Linked DNA regions of Homo sapiens. The protein of the gene in region 2 purifies or fractionates together with the protein of the main gene of each other region. This does not show direct contact. Each region holds a gene or a part of one and is shown on either strand. Other genes may lie near its edges. The genes, in order: FANCD2OS, SERPINB8, TIFAB, TOX4, PLXDC2, CTH and GOT1.

The links.
Region 1: the proteins of SERPINB8 (region 2) and FANCD2OS purify together in Homo sapiens (co-immunoprecipitation; one large-scale study listed by IntAct). This does not show direct contact.
Region 3: the proteins of SERPINB8 (region 2) and TIFAB purify together in Homo sapiens (tandem affinity purification; one large-scale study listed by IntAct). This does not show direct contact.
Region 4: the proteins of SERPINB8 (region 2) and TOX4 purify together in Homo sapiens (affinity purification with mass spectrometry; 2 studies listed by BioGRID and IntAct, with this or other methods). This does not show direct contact.
Region 5: the proteins of SERPINB8 (region 2) and PLXDC2 purify together in Homo sapiens (affinity purification with mass spectrometry; 2 studies listed by BioGRID and IntAct, with this or other methods). This does not show direct contact.
Region 6: the proteins of SERPINB8 (region 2) and CTH fractionate together in Homo sapiens (co-fractionation; one large-scale study listed by BioGRID). This does not show direct contact.
Region 7: the proteins of SERPINB8 (region 2) and GOT1 purify together in Homo sapiens (affinity purification with mass spectrometry; one large-scale study listed by BioGRID and IntAct). This does not show direct contact.

The regions. Positions count from the first base shown.
Region 1 is NC_000003.12:10,105,456-10,109,530, forward strand, and holds the start of FANCD2OS (FANCD2 opposite strand protein), read right to left. Parts: upstream 2,801-4,075; 5' UTR 2,560-2,800; intron 1,083-2,559; exon of another isoform or gene 1,005-1,082; coding exon of another isoform or gene 986-1,004; intron 1-985.
Region 2 is NC_000018.10:63,987,081-63,989,874, reverse strand, and holds the end of SERPINB8 (serpin B8), read right to left. Parts: coding exon 2,597-2,794; 3' UTR 501-2,596; downstream 1-500. UniProt on the Homo sapiens protein: Has an important role in epithelial desmosome-mediated cell-cell adhesion.
Region 3 is NC_000005.10:135,449,552-135,453,632, forward strand, and holds the start of TIFAB (TRAF-interacting protein with FHA domain-containing protein B), read right to left. Parts: upstream 2,801-4,081; 5' UTR 2,658-2,800; intron 1,172-2,657; exon of another isoform or gene 949-1,171; intron 399-948; 5' UTR 389-398; coding exon 1-388. UniProt on the Homo sapiens protein: Inhibits TIFA-mediated TRAF6 activation possibly by inducing a conformational change in TIFA.
Region 4 is NC_000014.9:21,487,195-21,490,694, reverse strand, and holds part of TOX4 (TOX high mobility group box family member 4), read right to left. Parts: intron 3,245-3,500; coding exon 3,002-3,244; intron 2,106-3,001; coding exon 1,845-2,105; intron 1,523-1,844; coding exon 1,292-1,522; intron 1-1,291. UniProt on the Homo sapiens protein: Transcription factor that modulates cell fate reprogramming from the somatic state to the pluripotent and neuronal fate. In liver, controls the expression of hormone-regulated gluconeogenic genes such as G6PC1 and PCK1.
Region 5 is NC_000010.11:20,214,932-20,218,431, reverse strand, and holds part of PLXDC2 (plexin domain-containing protein 2 isoform 1 precursor), read right to left. Parts: intron 1,007-3,500; coding exon 856-1,006; intron 1-855. UniProt on the Homo sapiens protein: May play a role in tumor angiogenesis.
Region 6 is NC_000001.11:70,414,268-70,417,767, reverse strand, and holds part of CTH (cystathionine gamma-lyase), read right to left. Parts: intron 1,813-3,500; coding exon 1,731-1,812; intron 1-1,730. UniProt on the Homo sapiens protein: Catalyzes the last step in the trans-sulfuration pathway from L-methionine to L-cysteine in a pyridoxal-5'-phosphate (PLP)-dependent manner, which consists on cleaving the L,L-cystathionine molecule into L-cysteine, ammonia and 2-oxobutanoate.
Region 7 is NC_000010.11:99,410,125-99,413,624, reverse strand, and holds part of GOT1 (aspartate aminotransferase, cytoplasmic), read left to right. Parts: intron 1-3,500. UniProt on the Homo sapiens protein: Biosynthesis of L-glutamate from L-aspartate or L-cysteine. Important regulator of levels of glutamate, the major excitatory neurotransmitter of the vertebrate central nervous system. Acts as a scavenger of glutamate in brain neuroprotection.

The DNA.
Region 1 (4,075 bases), on a different chromosome or scaffold from region 2:
TAAAAATATTTGTGGCTGGACACAGTGGCTCATGCCTATAATCCCAGCACTTTGGGAGGCTGAGGCGGGCGGATCACTTGAGGTCAGAGTTCCAGAACAGCCTGGCCAACATGGTGAAACCCTGTCTCTACTAAAAATACAAAAATTAGCCGGGCGTGGTGGCGCATGCCTGTAGTCCCAGCTCTGTGGGGAGGCTGAGGTGTGAGAATTGCTTTAACCCAGGAGGCGGAGGTTGCAGTGAGTCAAGATCGCACCACTGCACTCCAGCCTGGGTGAAAGAGCAAGACTCCATCTAAAAAAAAAAAAAAAAAAAAAATTATATATATATATATATATATATATATATATATATATATATATATATATTTTGAGGTTCGCGATGTATGAACCCTGTAGTAGCAGCTTCAGCATCATTTGGAAACTTGCAGAAATGCACATTTTTGGGCCCCACCTCAGACCAACAGGAACAAACTCCACGTGGGACCCAGCAATCTGCATTTATATAAGCCCTCTTGCATTGTCTATTTTGAGAATTTCTTATGCTATTCCTTTCAAACAACTCTAGCTTTCACTATTCATTACTGAGATCATCTCCTGGCCCCAAAGGCCTCTGCATTTTCTAGCACAAGGGAGCAACTTGCAGACCCCTGGGTTATTTATATACCACCTCAGAGGAGCTACACCAGGCTGGGAGAAAACACTTCCAAAGTCCAGTCAAAAAACTGTTAAAGATTTTTGTTTTTCTAGGTGTGGGTGTGGTTTTAAATTTGTTTTTCTGATTTGTTTGTTTTCCATCTATGGAAGACCTACTGGTTCCATAAGACCTTAATTTTCTTTTTCCTTTGAAGATTAAAAAGGGCTGTGAGGATATTGCTAACTGAAAATTTATGCAAGTAAAATTAGAATTTTCCATCATTCTCCTTCAACATTGCCAGTATATAAGAAGTTTTACTAAATTCAGAAGCTAATTTTTTTTAGCACGTACCTATTTTGTTAGTGGGCATAGCAGGTCCCTTTTCTTTCTAGCCAAGTGTATTTCTCTGCCCCTTCTTCTCCCACAGAAGATAGCAGCAGATCTCATCCTATCCAGTAATTGCCCCAGAAATACTGTGAAAATTTTGACACCTTCACCGCCGTTTGTGAGATAGAAAAGTTCGTTTTAAAAAAAGAACTGTTGGCCGGGCACAGTGGCTCACACCTGTAATCCCAGCACTTTGGGAGGCCGAGGTGGGTGGATCACTTGAGGTCAGGAGTTCAAGACCAGCCTGGCCAACAGGGTGAAACCCCGTCTCTACTAAAAATACAAAAATTAGCCAGGCGTGGTGGTGGGTGCCTGTAATCCCGGGTACTCAGGAGGCCGAAGCAGGAGAATCACTTGAATGGAGGCTGCGGTGAGCCGGGATCAAGCCATTGAACTCCAGCTTGGGTGACAGAGGGAGACTCCGTCTCAAAAAAGAAAAAAACGTTGGTGACATTTCAGACCAGAAGACCTGCTCCTGACAATGGTTAGTATAGGGGGATTTGTTGATTTTCTCCAACTAGTATGTTTCTCATGATCTATGTAGGCTCTTTGCAAAGTACTAAGTGTTCAAATATCTGGGCTGCCTTAGAATGAGAAAGGGACACCCAAGGGACAGTTATCTATTCCAAACACCCTGTGAAAGGCTTCTGGTGCTTGATATCTTGACCTTCAGAGCACATATCCAAGAGAGGGACTACTGTGGTACACCACCATGGCAAGGTGGGCGGAGGGTATGAATGCTGTCAAGCATATTTTTAATCCCAGAATATGGGATTTAAAAAAGTATTTAATCCCAGGATCCTTTTCTTTCTTTCTTTCTTTTTTTTTTGAGACAGAGCCTTGCTCTGTCACTCAGTCTGGAGTGCAGTGGCGCGATCTCCGCTCACTGCAAGCTCCGCCTCCCGGGTTCACGCCATTCTCCTGCCTCAGCCTCCCGTAGCTGGGACTACAGGCGCCTGCCACCACGCCCGGCTAATTTTTTTGTATTTTCAGTAGAGACAGGGTTTCACCGTGTTAGCCAGGATGGTCTCGATCTCCTGACCTCGTGATCCGCCCGTCTCGGCCTCCCAAAGTGCTGGGATTACAGGCGTGAGCCACCGGGCCCGGGCCCCCCGGATCCTTTTCTTGCCACATCTTCTAAGAGGAAGTAGAGGTAGAAGTAAAAGTCTTTGTCAAATGTCCAGCCTAGGTCGCGGCGCGGTGGCTCAGGCCTGCAATCACAGCACTTTGGGAGGCCAAGGCGGGCCAATCACTTGAGGTCAGGAGTCAGCCTAAATATTCGGCAGAACCAACATGGGACGAGAGCGCTTCTAAACCTAGGTCCCTGCACCTCTTCGCACAAAGTTTAAAGATGGTTCACCCCATCCCCACCGCCCAGAAGTCACTGTCAACCACTCCAGAAGGGCTTGAACCTACAAAGTCTGCTCAAGCTGCTCAATAGCTCCCAGATATGGAACACCTGATTCTCCTGGCCAAAAAGGTTTCCCCTTCACACCCCACTTCCCATTCCAAGGAACCCCATCTCTTGATTTCCCCACCTGGGAAACAGGGCGTTAGCGCCAAAGTGCAGCTGAGGTCCTGAACTGTAAACGGAGATCCCGAGGGTCTGGAGCTGCCGAGAGTGCGAGAGGCTCCCACTCCCCGCCGGAAGAAGGGGCTTGGGCCTCCTGGGTCCCTATCCGGGGGCGGGGACCAGAAGGTTCTGGCTGAGGCGGACGATGCGGTGGGAACCTGGGCCCAGTCCCACCATCCGGGCCCGGGGCTCACCTGCTGAACTCTGAGGGTCTCACGCTCCAAAGTGGCGGCCGCTGTTCGTGGCGCCTGGCAACCGCCTTTGTGACCCAGGACGGCAGGGCAGCCCGAGCCGCGGCGGGGATGGGGGCTCGAGGCGCCCTACTGGGAGGCGTCAGGGCCACACTCCCCGCCCCCACCTCATTGGAATGCCTTGTCCAGGACTTGGCCTTCAGGAGGGCTGGTCCGAATCCTGTCCCCTCCATTGTCCTCCTCCCTACCGTGCCACACCTGTGTACCTGTGTGCCTTTGATCAAGCCACAGAGGACAGGCGACCCCTACTTCAATGGCCATGGTCAGAGGCCTGCATAAAAGTCCCAGGACCTGTAGTTAGTGTTAAAAGTTAGTCCCAACTCATCACACTCTGCTCAGTGGGTGCTCAGGCAGAGTGACCCAGAGCTCTGTCAGGTTTTGTTGCTCTATTTGAATGATCCCAGTGGCAAAGAAAGAGAATTAATAAATGTTCACCTGTCAAGAGCAGGAGGAAACGCACGTCTTTCCTTGATTTCCTGACAGAAAACCTTTCTCAGCCTTGCGTTAAACCTGAGAGTACCTGTAATCCCAGCTATCTAGGTGGCTGAGATGGGTAGACTGCTTGAGCCCAGGAGTTCAAGACCAGTCTGGGCAACGTAGTGAGATTCCCAGCTCAAAAAGAAAACAAAAAAATCTCAAAAAGAATGATTTTGTCTCATTCTTATAATGCAGAAATACACTTTCGCCATATTAGTGAAGGAGTGATTTGACAACTTTGTAATCATCACTTAAAATAATGACCCTGGATGGCTGAGGGAAGGGAGGAGTCTACCCAGCTGATGTCTGTATTCCCAGTACCTGGCTATTGCCATGTCTGGCAGTGTGCAGTATTTGTGGGAGGAAGTAACTAATGGCCTACTTGGCCTTCCCTTGTACACCCAGAATTGCCCTTGCATTTTACAAACTATAGAACACACACCACAAATAAGACTTGTCACCTTTGTTCTGGTTTTTTGGGTAAAGCTGATGGAGAAAGACTGAGGGTCTGAGAATAGAGTCAGGCAAGATCCTGATTTAGAAGACACACACCCACTGTGTGTACATGTGCACCTTTTGGAAGAAGAGGTAAGTGGAGAAGAGTCTGGAGGGCATGTCGGGTCAGAACATGAAGAGAGAGGCACAGAATAGTGAGACTTGGAAGAGACACAAATGATTTTGAATTACAAAACTTTTTTCCCCAGTTAGTTCATTTTTATTTCCCTCTTTTTTTTTCTTTCTTTTTTTGAGACG
Region 2 (2,794 bases):
GCCTCCCGGGTTCACGCCATTCTCCTGCCTCAGCCTCCCGAGTAGCTGGGACTACAGGCGCCCACCACTACGCCCAGCTAATTTTTTGTATTTTTAGTAGAGACGGGGTTTCACCGTTTTAGCCGGGATGGTCTCGATCTCCTTACCTCGTGATCCGCCCGCCTCGGCCTCCCAAAGTGCTGGGATTACAGGCGTGAGCCACCGCGCCCGGCCTAAGCACATTTTTTTAAATGCTGAACATAATTAGGCATTAGGGAAATGCAACCAAAAGCCGGTACACGCTGAAAGTAACAACACTGGTAGTACCAAGTATTGGTGAGAAGAGAGAAAAACCAGAACTCTCCTAGGCTTTACTGGGAATGTTAAATGATACAACCACTTTCAAAGGCAATTTGGCAGATCCTTAAAAAGTTAAACTTACACCTTCCATATGACCCAGCCATTCTACTTCTATGTATCTATATACAAAAGAAATGAAGACATATGTCCATACAAAGATGTATATATATAAATATTCATAAAAACTTTATTTTCAATAGCAAAAATCTTGGTAACAACGTAAATGTTCATCAACAGGTAAATTTGTTCATCAACAAATCATGGTATACCTATACAAAAAAATGTTACTTACCAATAAAAGGGATGAACTATTGATACATACAATAACATAAATGAATCTCAAAATAATTGTACTGAGTGACAGGAGTCATACTACAAAGCATAGATGATGTATGGTTCCATGTATGTAAATTTCTTTAAAAATGCAAATTAATCTATAGTGACAGAAAGAAGATTGGTAGTTGCCTGAGCAGATCAGTGGTTGGGATGGGACGGGGAGAGGGAGAAGGAAGAGTGAGAAATTACAAAGATGCAAGAAGGAATTTGGGAGTATGATAGATAGGTTCATTATCTTGAATATAGCGATGGTTTGTTTCATGGAAAATGTGTCAGAACTTATTGTAGAGGTTAAATATGTGAAATGTATTCTGTGTCAATTAAAGTGTTCTTCAAATTAGAGGTGGAAGTGAGAACAAAACTCACAGATGTATACCTTTCAGTCCTGTGGATTAATTTTGCCCAAACCTGCTTTGGAAAACATGATCCCTAAATGAATGTGGCCTAACAGATATATCCTGGCTTGGTCAAATTTAAGTAAGAGCTGTAATATGAATGGTTCATGTAACTGTTAACTGTCAGTCAAAAACAGAGTCAGGATTAACCACTGTTCAGTCCAACTCATTAAAGAAATAATAAAGCAGGCAGCAGTCAGTGGTGGTATAAACAGTGACATAAGTGAGAGTACAAACCAGTGTAACTTTCTAGGGACCAATTTGGAAGAAGTCTCAAAATGTGCTCAACTTTTATCTCAACAGTACTATTGTTAGGAATTTTAAAAAATATATTAAGGATGTGAGCAAATATTTAGTATATCCAAAACAGCATAATATATATTATTAGCAATCTATTATTTGTTAATAGAAATAATTTTAATTACTCAAACTGTCTAAAATTAGATTCAATTATAGAAATCCAGCCACACAGTGGAATACTATGCACATCAAATTGATGACCTGGAAAGATCTTAAGGGAGGTTTTTCATAAGGGAAGAAATAAGCTACTGAAGGATATGATTAACTTGTAGTAAAATGCTTATAAATTTCTATTTGCATACACATAATAGGGAAGGATGTATATCACTATTAACAGCAGTGATTGCTGTGTGTTGGAATTGTGGGTGACTTCAATTTTTTTGGAGACTTTGCTGTAGTTTCCAAATTGCTGCCACAACGCAATTTTATTTTTAGGCAGAAAAAAATTAATGTATATGGAGGTTCTTTCTTAACTAAGGGGTGTGCTTGAGCTGTGTCTGAGCACATATGATTAGTTAGAGGACTCAGTGGTGTGTTGCGTAAGTTCCTTTGGTATTTTGTGTGTTTCAGAGGGAAAAGGAATGGAAAGAACAGCATAGCAAGCTTCAGATATTTGCCTCCTAGCTCAGTCCTAAAGTGCATTGCTGAGTCCCTGAACTTGTATCTCAGGCTTATGGAAAGATGAGAAGGAGCTGTCTTCATTACAAACTGTGTGAGACAGGGGGCATGCAGGGCTGTCTATGTGACAGTGACAGAAGCAGATCACTATTTCAGCTGCACATGAGACACAGGGTGGCTGCAGCTTTACTCTATAGGGTTTGCCCTTGGCTTTGTGTGCAGTGTCACCTGGGCACTAGTCCCCTGTTCAGCCTGGCAGTGGTGGTGGGCAGAGCCGGGCGGATGGAAGAGGGCTGGCTCCTGAAGCCCTGAGATGCTCCATAAGATCCCCTGAAACAATGGGCACAGACTTAGGTGAAGGCAGAGGCAATGGCAGGCACCCCAAACACTCCAAAACCAGCATAGCCTTCCCAGGCCCAAATTTCATGCATCTGCGGCCTCAGTTATTCTCAATGGCTCTGGAACTTTCAGCAAAGACTTTCACACACTATCCAGTGCACACGCTTTATTTTGGCATTCAAGCCACTGCACCAACTAGGTCACAGGGAATGTTAATTAAGGCAAGATAGGTAGAAGGAAAGGAGGGTATGTACAGCAATTGCTCCTCTTTACGGAGAAGAGAACCTGCCACAGAACAAGATGCAGTTGGTTTTGTGGTGCCTGATGAAGAAAAGAAAAGGGTGGTCTGCACAGAATCTTGGCTCCATTCTGCTGCACCGGGAATTCCTGACCACAGCAGTGGCTGCGGCAGCCTCTGTGCCTTCCTCATTGACCTCCACGAAGCACTTGTGGGCAACCTTGGACAG
Region 3 (4,081 bases), on a different chromosome or scaffold from region 2:
GGAAATAGCAGACAAAAGCCTCCAGGGATGTGCCTTCTTCTACGCGAACCAGCATCTGGATGCCTGAGAAGGAGACCCTGTTGACGGTGCTCAGGGGGACCTGCTCCAGGTACCTCAGCGTCAGCCCATTGACCCACACACAGCCCTTGCGGCTCAGGGCCTTGAGGCAGAAGGCCAGCAGGGCACTGCCTTTCTCCAGGTAGGGCTCCAGGGACAGGTGACGGCGGGAGAGGCGAGGGAGCTGCAGCTGGAGGTGGGCGTCCTGCCCCCGTCCGAGAAGCAGAGGGCTGGTATCATGCTGCAGCCGTGGTGGGACATTGGCAAAGGCAGATGGGCCCAGCGTGGGATGGTACAGGCTCACTCGCAGGACGGTGAGGGGCTTCTCCATGGAAGAAGTCCTGGGAAGTTGGAACATGGACACACAGGCTCAGCTTCAGTCAGAGACCTCTGTGGCTCCCTGAGCCCAGACACACTTGCCCACCTCAGGGGCCCTGTGCCTGTTCATACAATCACTCTGCCCAAGCCAGGATGGAGCCAAGGCTGGAATTGGTGTGGAAGGTCATGAGCTTAGTCTCTCTCATACTCTGAATAGAACATGCCACCCACTCTGTCTGACTTTTGGATTTCTGTAGTATAGATATATCTGTCCTTGTCTATGCAAGGGATAAGGCATGCTGGCTTGCAGGGTGGGGATTTGGTAATCTTTTGGTTATTTGGAGACAACTTGGCCCTGCTTCTTGGAAAGGAAAGGGTAGACAGACTGGCTACATTTTCCTTGTATCTGACAGTCACACAACAAACCCTTGCTGAATCCTCCTTTGAGCCAAGCAGGGAACCAGCTGCTGGGGAGAAGCAGATTCAACAACGAACCGAGCCCTGACTCTTGGGAGCACCCACTGGTGGAGGAGAGAGGTGTTTCTAGCATCAGGATGTGTGGAAGGACACAGAAGGAGGATGCTTAGCCTAGTCCTGGCCACCAGAAAGGCTGCCTAGAAACCCTGGTGAAGAGTAAACAGCTAGCACATTCCGAGTGGTTACTATGGGCACTTGCTGGAAGGCCACTCACAATGGCCAGCTTTGTTCCTGCATGGGTTTGAGGAACACAAACTCTGCTATGTCCACCAGCACCCTGTGGCCCAGGACCTGCCATCATCTTCAACAGGAACCAAGGGTTGAGTGGATTTGAATAACTAATTATACATTCTCTGGGTACCAGGCTTTTGCTCACATTATTTCTCTCCTAAGAATGCATCTTCCATCCCAAACTCTGTGTCCAAATACTGCCCACGGTTCAAGGCCCTGTTCAAGTGTTACCTCTCCTGTGAAGCTCCCTTCCCTGGGGAAGGTGACCTTTCGCTGCCTTCTGACTCCCACAACAGGGGGAATCCCCCAGGACACCTGGCCAACCTTACTCTCCATTCATTCCATCTTTGCATTTCATGCCCAAGTTCTGTGGGCCCTTGTCCTGTCTTCCCTGAGTTCCTCTCTTCCTGCCCCTGAGGCCTCCCAAGGGCTGGGTATGGTCTGGGCTGTGGTTCTTGCTGCCCCATGTTCCACTGCCCCATACAAATAGGGCCTGGCCACCATAAATGTCCAGGGGCACATTTGCCGAGTGGCTAAATGAGAAGCCCACACACACACATGGTGAAATCACCCAGAGAGACCACAAATGGGATCATGTCTCAAAGGCTGTGGGACAGCGAGCCTGTTGCAGGTGGCTTGAACTCAATGTCCCTCCAGGTCTTGAACCTGCTGCCCCTCCTGCCTTTTAGATGCAGTAGGTTAATGGCTGAGACCTTTTAGTCTGATAGTGAGGGCACCCTTTCACTATCAGAGGCCTGAGGGCACCCCCTTTCCCCTAAGGCACAGACACACATATGCCTCTACCCACACCCCATCTGGCCATAGTCTGCCGAAAGCCTTTCTTTTTTTTCTTTTTTTTTTTTTTCTGAGATGGAGTCTCACACTGTCACCCAGGCTGGAGTATAGCGGCATGATCTTGGCTCATGGTAGCCTCCGTCTTCCAGGTTCAAGGGATTCTCCTGCCTCAGCCTCCCCAGTAGCTGGGATTACAGGTGCCCGCCACCATGCCCAGCTAATTTTTGTATTTTCAGTAGAGACGGGGTTTCGCCATGTTGGCCAGGCTGGTCTCGAACTCCTGACTTTAGGTGATCCGCCCGCCCCGACCTTCCAAAGTGCTGGGATTACAGGCGTAAGCCACCACGCCCAGCCAGAAAGCCTTTTCTCGAGGTATGCGTTACAGGCTGAGCCCAGGACAGGTGGGCTGGGCAACCCATGCTGTCAGGCCTGGCTGGAAACTCAAGAGTTCACTCCCAGAAACTAATATCACGGCACAGAGACCCTGAAAGAATCCCTCAGGAAGAAAGATTCACAGTTGCTGTGTGGCCTTACTCTCTGCTCCAACCAGAGCTAACAGAAATCTCCCACTAAAGAGGAGCCCATCCACGACAGGCTGTCCCGTGTCTTTTGGATCCCAGGTGTTCTGGGGAAACAGAAACCCAGCCCTACAAATCCAGCCTTTGGGACGGGGCAGGAGGAAGACACTCCAGAATGTGTGTCTCAGGGGAGCCCTCCTCCCAGCCCCACCAGGCCCTCCCTTCTCCCCATGGGTTCAAGCCCCTCTGGCTTCAACTTACCTTATTGCCGGGGCACATCTGGCTCTAGTCCTGCAGCTGTGAGCTCTTGAGAGGGAGTAGGCTGGTTTGGGTAGGGCTGGGAGGGCTCCTATGGCTGCAGTTCAGGAACGTGGCAGAACATACTTCAGTTTTGTTGCATTCTTCCTTTTTCCCTTTAGGAAAGAAAATAGAAGTGTAATTTTTCATTGCAGAAGTGCAATTCCACTGCTGAGAGTTTGAGAAACCCCAGCGTGGGGCCCCTTCTGAGACAGATGGCCTGCCTTCCTGGGTTTCAGTTCTGCCAGCCTCTCCTACCCCACCCCCAGGGACCTTAGGACCTGCACCCAGGGTATCTGCAAAGTTCCTCTCCACCTGCCAGTAGGATGGGGTCAAAGCAGCCCAGGCATGTTAGAAAAGAAGAGCTTTTTGGGACAGATGGCTACGGGACAGGAGAGTCCCCTGAGTGTGGGAGAATGAGGAGAGCGTTCTGGCTGGATAGAGGTTGGCCAAGGAAACTGTAGGCAACATGGCACTTCCCTGAGGGTCTCAGGAGAGGGCAGGGCCTGGGGACGGGGAGGATGGAGAGGGCAGTAAATGGCCACTCATAGAACATGATCTCTCCTGCAGAACAGTGAGAAGGTGGTCTCTCATGCCCACTCCCCATCGCCCGAGCTCTGCCTATTTGCATGCAGTTTGGAAGGGGTGAAGATGGTCGCTTGTCCAGCACTGCGGGCTCTGGCTGCCCTGGAATGTGAAGGTGCTAACCCTTCACGTAGCCCAGCATTTCATAGTCCACCAGTGTGTTCAAGTCACCTGCGTTATCTCCTAGGAGTTTTATAGTTCTATACGTACATTTTAATTTTTCTGACATGTGTAAGGTTTGTGTCTAGATTTTTTTTTTTTTTGGCTTATAGGTGTTCAGTTGTCTCAGCACCATTTTCCGAAATGACCATGTTTTTTTTCCTTCAGTGTTTTCTCTTTACTCCTTTGTCAAAGATTGGTTGACTGTATTCATGTGGGTTTATTTCTGGGCTCTCTACTTTGTATCATTGATCTATTTGTCTATTTTTTCACCAATACCTTACTGTCTTGATTGCTGCAGCTCTGTAGTAAGTCTTGAAGTTGGGTACTGCCAGTCCTTCAATTCTGTTCTTCTCTTTCAATTTTGTCTTGGCTCTTTTGAGTTGTCTGTCTATATAAATGTTAGAATCAGTTTGTTAATAGCCACAAAATAACTCGCTGGGATTTTGACGAGACTTCATCAAATCTATCAATAAAGGAGGGAAGAACTGACATCCTGACAGTATTGAATCTTCCTATTCATGGACATGGGATATCTCTCTATTTGTTCAGTTCTTTGATTTCCTTCATCATAGTTTCATGGGTTTCCTCATATAGATCTTGTATATGTTTTGTTAGATTTATACAGAAATATTTCTTTTTTG
Region 4 (3,500 bases), on a different chromosome or scaffold from region 2:
GAAGGACACTACATGAGGAATTATAGGAGACATTATTAGTGGAAAGTACATGGGAAGAGTTAAAGAACCTGGATTGTGTCTCAACTTTACCACTTAAATGTTATATGACCTTAACTGGGCAGTGGGCTCCAGTTTCCACCTTAAAAGCGGGAAATGGTAGCTATTTTTGAGAGTTATTGTAAAGATGCAGTACTTCTGTAACAATTATTATTATTTTTTGAGATGGAGTTTCACTCTTGTTGCCCAGGCTGGAGTGCAATGGCATGATCTCGGCTCACCGCAACCTCTGCCTCCCGGGTTCAAGCAATTCTCCTGCCTCAGCCGCCTGAGTAGCTGGGATTTGAGGCATGCCACCACACCCGGCTAATTTTTTTGTATTTTTAGTAGAGTCGGGGTTTCAATGTCAGCCAGGATGGTGTTGATCTCCTGACTTCGTAATCCGCCTGCCTCGGCTTCCCAAAGTGCTGGGATTAACAGGCGTGAGCCACCGCGCCCGGCCTATAACAATTATTATTTATTTATTTGAGCCGGGGTCTTGCTCTGTCACCCAGGCTGGAGTGCAGTGACACAAACATGGCTCACTGCAGCCTTTATATCCTGAACTCAAGCAATCCTCCCGCCTCAGCCTCCACAGCTGGGACCAAAGGCACATGCCACCACACCCAGCTAATTTTCTGTGAGACGGGGGTCTCCCTATGTTGCCCAGGATGGTCTCGAACTCATGGGCTCAAGCAATCCTCCTGCCCTGGCCTCCCAAAGTGCTGGGATTAAAAGCATGAGCCACCACACTCAGCCTATTAATAATTTTTAAATAGGCCGGGCGCAGTGGCTCATGCCTGTAATCCCAGCACTTTGGGAGGCCGAGGCGGGTGGATCACGAGGTCAGGAGATCGAGACCATCCTGGCTGACATGGTGAAACGCCGTCTCTACTAAAAATACAAAAACAAAATTAGCCCAGTGTGGTGGAAGCGCCTGCAGTCCCAGCTACTCGGGAGGCTGAAGCAGGAGAATGGCGTGAACCCAGGAGGCGGAGCTTGCAGTGAGCTGAGATCACGGCACTGCACTCCAGCCTGGGTGACAGAGCGAGACTCTGTCTCAAAAAAAAAAAATTTAAATAGGTTTTCTGGAGTGAGTGTATGGCTGCAACTTCGAAGACAAGGGATGATATTTAAGTGTCATTAACAAACAGCTGATATTAGATAAGGACATGTAAGAAAAAAGAAAACCTCAATTTTTATCTCTTTAAAAACTTCTGGAACATTCACTACTAGTTCCTCAATATTTGCTCACCTGTTTTTGCTCCTCTCCAAGACTATCCCACATGGAGGCCACAATTTTTGAAACCTCACCAAAAGTGGCATTAGGATTCTGTCCCTTGATGGCAGCCTGTGTATCACGAAAGAATAAAGCATATGCTGAAACTGGTTTCTGAGGTTCATTAGGATCTTTCTTTTTTCTCTTCTTTGGGGCCTTCTGCTTTTTCCCTGCTTCCACCACGACTGTCTTCTGGCTGGGAAGTTGCTGTAGGAGAGAAAAAAGAGAGAATTACACAATGGACAATGACAAGTATTATGTCTGGAAACTAGCCACATGTATGGAATTTTCAGAAATGCTAAAAATCATAGAAATAGCATTAAAAGACATTAGTCAAATATGGAGAACCAATAAGAATAGGGATTGAGAGGAGAATTATAAACTGGAAATTGGGAGGTGGAACCCCATACCCAGAAAACAGCAGAGGAGATGGCACGGCAAGGGTAAAGAATACTGATTAGGCTCTGTATCCCAAAAATTTTATCCCAGACTATCACAGCAGAATTGATTTTGACAGGGAATGCCTCACCCTCCGGAAATCCTCAACACCATCCTCGTGAAGTGAACTAGTAGGTGAAGGGGTGGTTGAAAGACGATCTTCAGGTGACTGGGCAGGTGGCAGGATGGTGCCACCCCCTAGGCTCAAACCCAGCTGGGAACTCAGTTCTGACTGATCAATGGTGGTCAACTGGCTATGCCCCATCAAGCCAGATGTCATGTCTGTCATTGGTACATCAATTGTAACAGGTGGGTTGGCACTATACTGAGTTCCTATAGAGTGGTCCAAGTCCTGAGAGAAGCAGAAGGACTAATTAAACACTAAATATAAAAAAAACCACTTTTCCCCCCTAAATTTAAGACAGCTTATAAATTCCCTGCCTACCCAAATTGTATCATTTAAAATACAAAACATAAAATAGTCTTCAAAAATGAAAATAAAAAAATAAGCTTTTTAAAAAAGTACAGAAATTAATGAATTTACTTCTTTGCACTCAAAAGAAGAACTAAAAATAATCAGAGAAGTCGCACTGTTGGACAAGTCAAAGAGCTATCAACTTATTCAGTAATATATAGGTAGTGACAACACATTGAGTAAAGAAAAACTTCCTATCTGTACTCTCCCAAAATAATAGCTTTTAAAATTGTAATACATAGGCAATCAGCATAAATAAGGCCAATATTAAAGTCTGGCATCAAATATAGAGTATGAAGATGTGCTTACTGGTTCGATGTGCTGGAAGCCCAATATACTGATTTATATTACATACTAATCCACAATACTATATTTGGCTCAGACTTTTTTTTTTTTTTTAAGCTCTGTTCTGCTGGCTGCTCAACGTGATTCAGGCCATTTTTGAATAAATCCCTCCGTGTGCCAGCTATCACATTCAAATTTGAATCCTAGGATGTGAAGGCCATAATAAAAGCAGAAAACACTTTTTCCCAAAAACCACAATAAATAATTTTCAAACCAGACATTGTACAATTTTAAATTATTTTTCAAGTAAAATCTACCTACATGGTAAATTTCATTTATTCAGGTGAAATTAAGTCTTTGTTGGTGAGCCTTTAGCCACAAGAAGAGAAACAAGTAATACCCAAGTGTAGCAGGGAATAGAGTAACTTTGTCTCCCCTAATGCCATGCCCATTAGCTGGGGTAAGCCTGACAATGTCTTGCCCCTTACCATGGTCAAGCCCCCACTCAGGAGCCCCCCGCCCTGCTCCATCAAGCCATGGGTCATGCCCACAGGCATGTCCAATGTCTGGACCCCATACTGGGCTGAAAAACTGCCATCCTGTGAAGAGGAAGGGTCTGCCAGGTCATCAAAGTGGCCAACCACATCTGAGACAGCCAATGAGGGATCAGAATCCAAGGAGATAGGTGGGATTTCAAATTCCTCATCACCCAAGCTTGGTGTATGGAATGTCTGTAGGGGAAAAAAGGGGGAAAAGAATTAGTGAAAAGAGGAGAAATGGCATACTACTAAGTGAAGAACATAATGGGGTACTAGAGATTCTCAGGATGCATTTTTTCTGCTTAGGATCCTATTTTATAATCAATTTCTTAGAACCTATTATTTTTACCAATCTCTCTTCTGATACCCTTGGTCATTTGGTACATTCAAGGCTGCTAACATCAGTCACAATTTTCAATTCTTTTATCTCTTTTCTACCATTACCGTC
Region 5 (3,500 bases), on a different chromosome or scaffold from region 2:
TTTTAAAAGCAGTAAAATGCACTTAGCAGCTGCTTTCCACCCCACTTTATTCCAGTTCACCTTATAATATCAAATTAAATTCCAATTAAAAGTTCCATATTTAATTTTTTATTCAAGCCAAAGAAAGTGAGGCTTATAACAATAAACAAGTAAGACCCATTTATCCCCCTCAAACCTGATTCGTGGCCAGTCTTATGTTTCTGCCCTCTCCCTCCTGGTGGTATCATTCAGAATAGAAAATTATCGTATGTTGGGTAATACACTTTCTTCCTCCTGAGCTGTGCCCAAGCATTAACACTCTCTAGTATTTCTGCCTACCTTAGAAGAGGAAATAGTTGTTTTCAAGGACAATTTCTATGACACATACAGTGTTTCTGTATAGGTTATAGACCAATATATTTTATTGACTGCATTCTGGAAAACATTAGAATTATATATTAATAGAATTATTTATTGTTCAGAATCCAGAATCAACGGACATTTTATATGCATTTTGCCTTTCTAACCTGTGATTGTGAAGTTGGATTTGCTTAGTACAAAATTTAGCCACACAGGAAGAAATCTGTATTTCTTTTCTAGGAAGGAGAGGACAAGAAGCCAGAATCAATGGTAAAAGCTATGTCTTAAAAAAAGGCACAGTGCATTAAAAGAATCCCAGCATTTACTTTTAGTTCATAATAATTTTGTCTTTTTCCCCTTTGGAAATCCCTTAGAAATCCAGTTTGCCAAAGAATAACTTTAGAGAGACCTAGAGAGTAGGAGCTATTCCAGTACATGTCAACACAGTGATTTTTCCTTCCTTCAGGGAAAAAAAAAAAAAAAAAAAAAAAAAAAAGCAAACTATCTCTTGGGTACCTTCTGTAGGGAGGCTGGTGGGAAACTGAGAAGTCACTGCTCTTCTGGTGGTAGTTAGGACCCTGAACTGGGTGGTTGTCGCTCCTACGGTTGTGGTGGTTCGAGAAGAAGTTTCCACTGGTTCTGTATTCTCACACATCTTCTCTTTTGACTAGTAAGAGAAAAGAAAAGGAAAACAAATGGAGTGATCACAAATCTATTTTTAGAACTTACATCAAAGAAGCTGGGCTGTAAAGCACAAAAGCCTCTCATATCAAGACAAGGAATAAATTACTTTTGTACAAGACTATATTAATGATTTTGCTAATTTATGAAGTTTATAAAATAGGAAAGAGAAAAAGATGGATGGAACAAGGCATTTCCCTTTTTAGATATTTAGGTTTCATCATTTACTGCTGTTAAGCTTTCATATTACTGTTTACCTTGCCCTAAATTTTACATTGGTATATTTATAAAAGACACACTGTCAAAAGGGAAAATTTATACTAGAAGAAAAACAGGTGCATAAAGATAAGGTTTAAAACATACTCAGGTTTGTGGAGAAAAAGTGCATTCCTTTCGTATCAAACTGACAATGCTAAATCCGAAATATTTGCTAACTTCCCCATACTACTTCATTGTTTCAAAAATCATCTGTCACAAGTTGAATGAATGTCTAAAATTTTGTTTTCCTTTATGAAATATTCAAAACCACATAAGCAAAGGATTGAACAGAACTCTTGTAATCACTCAGCCTATTTTCCTCCTTAGCAGAGCTATATTGAAAACATCAGGAAATGAGACATAGTGAATTTTTTATTTTTAATTTGTGAAAACAAATCCTACAACCTTCACTGGTAACAACCTCCAACATCCAAACTTTTATAGCTTAGAAGTTGGTGTTTCTATCCACCTTTTGTGCCGCAGTGGACTCCCTCTCTCAGGTGGGCCTTGAGTAGAAAATAACTATTCTGGACATGAGTGGTTCTCATCCCACATTTTAAAATTATTGTTAAATAAATATCATTCTTAAACTTCTCTCATCATTAGTGGAGCGCTAGGTGCCTTTCCCCTTGTTAATGCAGACTTCCTGAGACAGCCTCCTTTTCATTAATAGGATATGAAACAGGTTTATTCTCCACTTCAAGTCTAAACATACTAGGGTCTCATTTAATTCCCCAAATTCCAGTTCCTGCACCTCTGAGCCCCATTAATCTAATTATTTCCTTTCAGATACCACTTTAGTTGTCATCCCCACACCCTGGACTATATCTGTAGTGGAAAATGTTTTAGATCTGAAATCATAAGCTCAGTTATCCTTTTTCCATCTATCCCTGTACCTGCGAACTCCAATTCTTCTTATTCTTTGACTACTTAGAAAGCCTAAGAAAATGATTTTGTTTTTAAGTTTCTTTTTCCCCCATTACTTCAACCACTCATTTCAGTAGCTTCAAGCATCTTGCTCTATTTTTTTATTTTTTTTTTTTTTTAGTTTTTTTTTCTACAACACCTTTAAAGAAAAGATCTGCCTTTTCCCTGCCTGCTCCAAAGCCAGGCACAGCTGGAGAATAATCACACAGACCCGCCATGGGGGCTCCACAAACATCTCCTGCATCCTTAGCAGGGCCGTGCATACCACTTGGCAGCATTGCTGTGTCTTGCTAATCACCTCTCCCATTATGCTCAGTATGAATTTCAAGCTCTCTCCACTTTACCTAAAACTGCAATCCCATCATGATTCTCCCGGTTTTACTCCTTGGGTTCACCTTCCATTTCCTTGATAAATAGGCATGATCAGCAAGATTTCTTTAAATTTCTTAGTGAATCAGCATACTTACTTGACTCTGGGCTGACCTATTCTTTCCTTCTGTGATAATGGATGGGGACCTTTCCTTATAGCCATCCTTTCAACCTATTTCTACCTATGTCCTAGCTCAACTCAGCCCACCTTCACAGGTATTGTGAATTTGCTTAGGTGATCATAGTCCTTTCTCTACAATATTTGCCACCCCTAATTCTCTGCTGGCTTCTTATCAACAACACTTAAAGGTACACAAGCATGCCTAATCTTATTTTGCAAACCCAAATTCCAGTTTGCAAAGGGAGGCAGTCCCAGAAGAGGGACTGCCTCCCTCTTCTCCCCAATGCATCCTGACATTATACTGCTTTCCCTCCATTCATACGCAGTCATATTTCCAGAGAGATCAGTCTGCCTTGGTCTTCTCAGACTCCCAGCTTTCCCTTTTATGACAATCTTGCTCTTACCTAATCCAACTGAGTTGAAATTTCTCGTACCAATGTTTCTAAATATCTCCTTAGCTAAATATCCAACATCTTCCATGGTGTCCTACTGACACCTCATCAGCCTATGGTGCAGATGTCCACTCCCCTGTCTTGGTTTCTGTGACACACCCTCTCCTCAATGTTCTGACACCTCCCTCACAACTCCATCTCAATTTCCTTTTATTTATGTCAATTCCTTAAGTGTTGGGGTGGTTCTTATGGATCATTCTTGCTCTGTCACTTCATTCTATGCATTATCTTTTGCAATCTCTTCTACACCCATGACTGCAATGAACATCTTTATGTTGATTATTCATAAATCTATATTTCCAGTCCACATTCCTCTTTTGGATTTCAGGCCCAAAAAGTCATCTATTGACCAG
Region 6 (3,500 bases), on a different chromosome or scaffold from region 2:
TAAGATATCTTTAAAATAAAAAATATATAATGTGGACAGATACTTTTGTGTTAAGTCAATTTTGCCTTGGTAATAATATTTCTCTGAAACACTTCAAGAAAATAATTCTTTACAAATATCTGAGATAAAAGGCCTATTGCCAGTTAAACTACAGTTTAAAAATAGCAAACTAAAGGAATTTCAGGGCAGGCGTGGTGGCTAATGCCTATAATCCCAGCACTTTGGGAGCCCAAGGCAGGTGGATCATTTGAGGTCAAGATTTCGTGACCAGCCTGGCCAACAGGGTGAAACTCTGTGTTTACTAAAAATACAAAAATTAGCCAGGCATGGTGGCACATGCCTGTAATCCCAGCTACGAGGGAGACTGAGGCAGGAGAATCGCTTGAACCCAGGAGGTGGAGGTTGCAGTGAGCCAAGATTGCACCACTGCACTCCAGCTTGGGTGACAGAGGGAGACTCCATATCAAAAAAAAAAGAAAGAAAAGAGAAATTTCAAACATAAAGAATAGAGCAAAGATATGATTCATACGTTAATTATATGAATATGCAATTCAGTAAATATTTTAACAAAACTCGCAATCAGACCTGAGATTTGTCTGATAAGTGTAATCACAATGAATACACAAGACTCTCTTCATTAAAAAAAAAAGTTTAGGGAGTTAATCTCTAATCTCTGACAGCACATTATCAGGAGTTATTGACCACTGAAAATAACTTTAGTGCTATTCTCAGGCACAAATTATTAGGTGAATAAACCAGAGGATAAGCAAGTTTAGGCCAAGTGTGGTGGCTCACATCTATAATCCCAGCACTTTGGGAGGCCGAGGTGGGCAGATCACTTGAGCCCAAGAGTTCCAGACCAGCCTGGCCAAAATAGCCCCATCTCTACTAAAAATACAAAAAAAAGGCTGGGCGTGGTGGCCCACTCCTGTAATCCCAGCACTTTGGGAGTCCAAGGCGGGAGATCACGAGGTCAGGAGATCGAGACCAGCCTGGCCAACATGGTGAAACCCCATCTCTACTAAAAATACAAAAAATTAGCTGGGCGTGGTGGCAGGCACCTGTAATCCCAGCTACTTGGGAGGCTGAAGGAGAAGAATTGCTTGAATCCAGGAGGCGGAGGTTGCAGTGAGCCGAGATCCTGCCATTGCACTCCAGCCTGAGCGACAAGAGCAAGACTCTGTCTCAAAAAAAAAAAAAAAAAAAAATTAGCAGGGTGTGGTGGTGCACACCTGCAATCCCAGCCACTCAGGAGGCTGAGGCAGGAGAATCGCTTGAATCCTGGAGGAGGAGGTTGCAATGAGCAGAGATTGTGCCACTGCACTCCAGCCTGAGCAACAGAATGAGAGACCCTGTCTCAAAAAAAGATTTTATATTCTAATAGGTGGTGTTATTAAATTTAATTTCCATTTATTTATTTATACTGACAGTTTCAGATGAAGATTGTTTTCACATGAATACTACATGATAAATGTAGTATTAATAAATGTAGTATTCGTGTGAATTTTTTCCTTTATTCATTTGTCCTCTATTCATACGTATTTTTACCTGATGATTACACATATGCATATTATACCAACTGAGGGACCTTGGGCAAAGAATTCAAAGGCAGTAGAACAGGAATTTTGAACTAGCAAATCTGTTTCTTTTCAGTTCCACATTCTGTGCCTCTATGGTTTTCTCTATACATTTAAAAATAGATTCTAGACTGTGAAATGGAAATTACTTACAGTACTTAGCCCCATCCAGTGCTGCCACTGCTTTTTCAAGGCAATTCCTAGTGGGATTTCCAGAACGGCTATATTCAAAACCCTGAAAAAAACAAGTTCGAGTTCATCCTAAGAGATTTCAGTTTATTATCAGAGTCCTAACATAGAGAACTATAGTTTCACCCTACCATAATTAGTTTCTATTCTTTAGTCATGATATGTCTTGCTTTAATACAGAAGCAGAACAGTGCTGTGGCTATAGTCAAGATGCTCTGAAGTCAAACAAACTCTATGTGAATTCTGTATCTGCCACTTATGAGCTGCATGACACTAGGTAAGTTACTTCACATTTCCAAGAGTCAATCTCAATATCTGTAAAATGGGAATAAAATACAGATATCTGGTTCATAAAATTGTTGTGAAGATAAAATGAGATAATGCACAAATTCACTACATGTTTCCTGGCACATGCTAATCACTAAATAAATGACAGTTTTTATTATTAGTATGTTTATTATGTTAGACTCACCTTTTTTCATTAATCTGGAAACATTAGGAAAAGGGACTTGCATGAGCCAACAGAATAAACCTAATTCTAACCTGTATTTCATTTCCTAAGAAATAAATGATTAAGTGATACAAGTTTTTTTTTTTAAGGATAGGACCTCACTCTGTTGCCCAGGCTAGAGTACGGTGGGGCAATCATAGCTCACTGCAGCCTCAAACTCCTGGGCTTAAGCAATCCTCCGATCTCAGCCTCCTGAGTAGCTAAGACTACAGGTGCATGTCACCATGCCTAACAAATATTTTAATTTTATTTTTTGTAGAGGCAGTCTAGCTATGTTGCCCAGGCTGGTCTTGAACTCCTGACCTCAAGCAATCTTCCCACATTGGTCTCCCAAAGTGCTGAGATTACAGGAGTGAGCCATCTGTCAGGCTGATTCAAGTTCTATTTAGCATACAACAGGAAGTTATGATCACATCCTACCAATGCTCAACATTCATTCACATCTTGGCTCTACAAAAGTGGCTCAAAGCATAGGGAGCAATTCCTGGCAAAACAGCTCCACACAATACTTTTTAAAAATTTGCATTCCTATAATCCCAGCTACTCGGGAGGCTGAGGCAGGAGAATTGCTTGAGCCCAGGATGCGGAGGTTGCAGTGAGCCGAGATAGTGCCACTGCACTCCAGGCTGGCCAACAGAGCGAGACTCTGTCTCGGGAAAAAAAAAAATTGCATTATTCTCCTTTTACATATATGGCACCCTGCTAGCTATATTCATCCAGTCATTCTACTAATCCTTATGACTGGCTTTGAGGAAAGTGAAGCCAAATGCAATAGTACCTAGGGAGTGTCAAAACCGGATTGTGAACCAAGGATTCGAACATTAATTAGAAGTCCTATAATTTTCTCCCTCTGCTTCACATAACATAACAAAACACAACCACTCTTTCACCTTTGTTTCTGATTCAGAAGCTCCCAGTATTAACAACAATAACTTCTAAAAGTTTTGTTGCTATGTGCCCTTGTTTATGACAAGTTGAGCAGACTTTTTTTTTTTTGAAAGGGAGTCTCGCTCTGTTGCCAGGCTGGAGTGCAGTGGCGCAACCTCCACCTCCCGGGTTCAAGCGATTCTCCTGCCTCAGCTTCCAGAGTAGCTGGGACTACAGGCACGCCACCACACACAGCTAATTTTTGTACTTTTTTAGTAGAGATGGGGTTTCACTACGTTGGGGAGGTTGGTCTTCATCTCCTGACCTCATGACCCACCCGCCTCAGCCTCCGAAAG
Region 7 (3,500 bases), on a different chromosome or scaffold from region 2:
TGGAGTTGCTGTTTTTGAGGAGTATCTTCATGGCATTCTCTGTATTTCCTGAATTTGAATGTTGGCCTGCCTTGCTAGGTTGGGGAACTTCTCCTGGATAATATCCTGCAGAGTGTTTTCCAACTTGGTTCCATTCTCCCCGTCACTTTCAGGTACACCAATCAGATGTAGATTTGGTCTTTTCACATAGTCGCATATTTCTTGGAGGCTTTGTTCGTTTCTTTTTATTCTTTTTTCTCTAAACTTCTCTTCTCACTTCATTTCATTCATTTGATCTTCCATCACTGATACCCTTTCTTCCAGTTGATCGAATCGGCTACTGAAGCTTGTGCATTCGTCATGTAGTTCTCGTGCCATGGTTTTCAGCTCCATCAGGTCCTTTAAGTACTTCTCTGCATTGGTTATTCTAGTTAGCCATTCGTCTAATCTTTTTTCAAGGTTTTTAACTTCTTTGCGATGGGTTCGAACTTCCTCCTTTAGCTCAGAGAAGTTTGATCTTCTGAAGCCTTCTTCTCTCAACTCGTCAAAGTCATTCTCCATCCAGCTTTGTTCCGTTGCTGGTGAGGAGCTGCATTCCTTTGTAGGAGGAGAGGCACTCTGATTTTTAGAATTTTCAGTTTTTCTGCTCTGTTTTTTCCCCATCTTTGTGGTTTTATCTACCTTTGGTCTCTGATGATGTACAGATGGGTTTTTGGTGTGGATGTCCTTTCTGTTTGTTAGTTATCCTTTTAACAGTCAGGACCCTCAGCTGCAGATCTGTTGGAGTTTGCTGGCGGTCCACTCCAGACCTTGTTTGCCTGGGTATCAGCAGCGGAGGCTGCAGAACGGGGAATATTGGTGAACAGCAAATGTTGCTGCCTGATCGTTCCTCTGGAAGTTTCGTCTCAGAGGGGTACCCGGCCATGTGAGGTATCAGTCTGCCCCTACTGGGGGGTGCCTCCCAGTTAGGCTACTCAGGGGTCAGGGACCCACTTGAGGAGGCAGGCTGTCCGTTCTTAGATCTGAAACTCCGTGCTGAGAGAACCACTACTCTCTTCAAAGCTGTCAGACAGGGACATTTAAGTCTGCAGAGGTTTCTGCTGCCTTTTGTTCGAGCTCTGAGCCTTTCTTCTGCTTGGAAGGCCTCACCATTCCCAGGCTGCTGTCTTAGTTCACTAATAGCCTCTTAATTTACCTTCCTGCCTCTAGTCTCTTCCCTGTTTTAGTACATTCTGCATGCTGCAGCTAGGATGACCTTCCTTGGCAAAACAAGCTACTCATGTCACCTGTTCCCACTCCCCACCCCCACCGCCCATAGCTCCCCCATTGCCTGTAGGGTAAAATCCAGACTTTGAGCTTGGCATGCAGTGAAAGTAGGTGACAGGTGACAGTCTTCATCCTGTTCTTACAGTTGCTGATTTCCCCTCACTCCACTAGAGGTCCTGACATTCTAAGAGTCTTGCTGTTCTCTAGACCTACTGGGCCCTGTCAAGACTAAGAACCTTTGCCTGGCCCTTCTCTCCATTTGGAATGCCCTCCCTTATTGCTCTAGCTGTCCAGTCCCCACCTCTAAGTCCTTCAAGAGCTGATCAAGGGTCACTTCCACACTGAATCCTTAGGTATTTTAGGCAGAGCTTGTTGTTTAAGCTCTCTGAGTTATCACAGGACTTTGTTCACAGCTTGGGAATAACAGTACTTAACTGTTCTTACTATAATGGATAATTTTATAAGTCTTCATCTCCCACAAGGCCCTAACTTTCCCCAGGAGAGTGATCATTGCTTATTTACCTTGCAGATTTTCAGCATTTGGCTCCTATCCGGGTACCTCAGGTTCCAAAGGTTTGGATTCATTCATTCCTTTAGTCATCAGATGCCCACTACTAGAGCCAGGCACTGTTCTAGATGCTGGAGCACAGCAGTGACTCAAACACACAGAATCCCCTGCCCTTGCATTCAGTTTCGGGGAGAGGAACAGACTCTAAATGTAATCTTTTTGACTATATCAGTAAGAAAATGATGTAGTATACTAAAGATGATAAATGCTATAAAAATGGAGCAGGAGGTGGCATGTTAGGAATTCTAGGAGTGGATACAGTTTTAACTAGGGTGGTTATGATAGAAATAGAAATGACATTTGAGCCAAAACTTAAAGACGAGACATAAATGAAAGAATGAGTGAACAAGTAAACCAACAGTAATTGTTTCTTCCCTTAGATTTTTCTTCTCCAGATTCAACATTTCCAGATCCTTTACCCATTTTGAGGAGACCTATTTTCTAGACTCCTCACTGCCTTGTATTACTTTTCCACTTTCAGATCTTAGGATCCAGACAGAAATGTCGATTTTTCATCTCTGGCATAGTGCTGTTTCAGCTTTGAGATTACTGAGCATTGTAGGAAGGAGGGCTCATGGGTCATAACTCATTGTCACATCATGACATCCCACTCTCGCTTTGATTGCCTCTAGGCGACTTGGGGCTTCTGCTGTGGCTCAGATCTTTTCACCACTGTCTTCTTTCTTCATCTAGTTCAGCACATGCTTATGTAGTACCATGTGCCAGATGCCGTGAGAGATGCTGGGGGCACCCAGATGAATGCAGCATGGCTCTGGCCACAGGCAGCTCCTGGTTGCTCTCCTATTCCTCATGGTGAAGTCATAGTATCGGCAAATTGTTATCTCAGACAAGGGTTCTAGAATCCAGCAATCTTATGCTGACATGTCCAACAGAGGCCTGCTCTATCTAGCTTCATACCAAGTCTTCCTGGATTTCCCTTGTTCTGGATACTCTTGTTTACCCAGGTCCAGTTGCCTGGCTCCTTGAGAAGTCTGTACTTACTTCCTTTGATGTTATGATTTTCCTTTATAACAAGTACAGGACATTCTTAGGCTGTAGGACAATTTGCCAAAAATCAGTTCACAGAATGACCACATTGCTATATTATTGATTCACCAAAAACTTGTTTCTGTTAGTTGCTGATGTTTAGAGCAACTTGTGTTTCACTGAAGCCATCCAGTATTTAATAGATTTTTAGGGAGTGATAACTTCTTGAGAATTTGATATTTCAAGTGTCATATATGTCATGAATGTCAAGGATTAGTTAATGTGGAGTGGGTTTATCTCTTCTAAGCACATTTTTAATGTATTCTACTGATTTTTAAAAAAATGAATTTGCTTTCTGTAGTGGGAGAGAAAGGGTGGAGTGAAAAGTTGAGAACAGGAAATGAAAAATTATGCCTGGGAATGTTTCCACTGGTATCTATGCATCTATCGTGTTTCCAGAAGTTAAAACCATGTTCAAGGGAGGTCTTGCTCATTTGCTTAGGAAGTATTAGCACTCTAGAGTGGCTTAGGTATCTGCAATGTGAAGTCATGTATGAAACTGACATTCAACTTAGCTGGATGACAAATCCATAAAAAATAAATGCACATTTGTGTTATATCATCTTGGTAGCAATTTGCATAAAGAATTCAGGTAAACCACAATGTGGGGGCAAAACTTTTAAAGTAATAGCAAGGGATG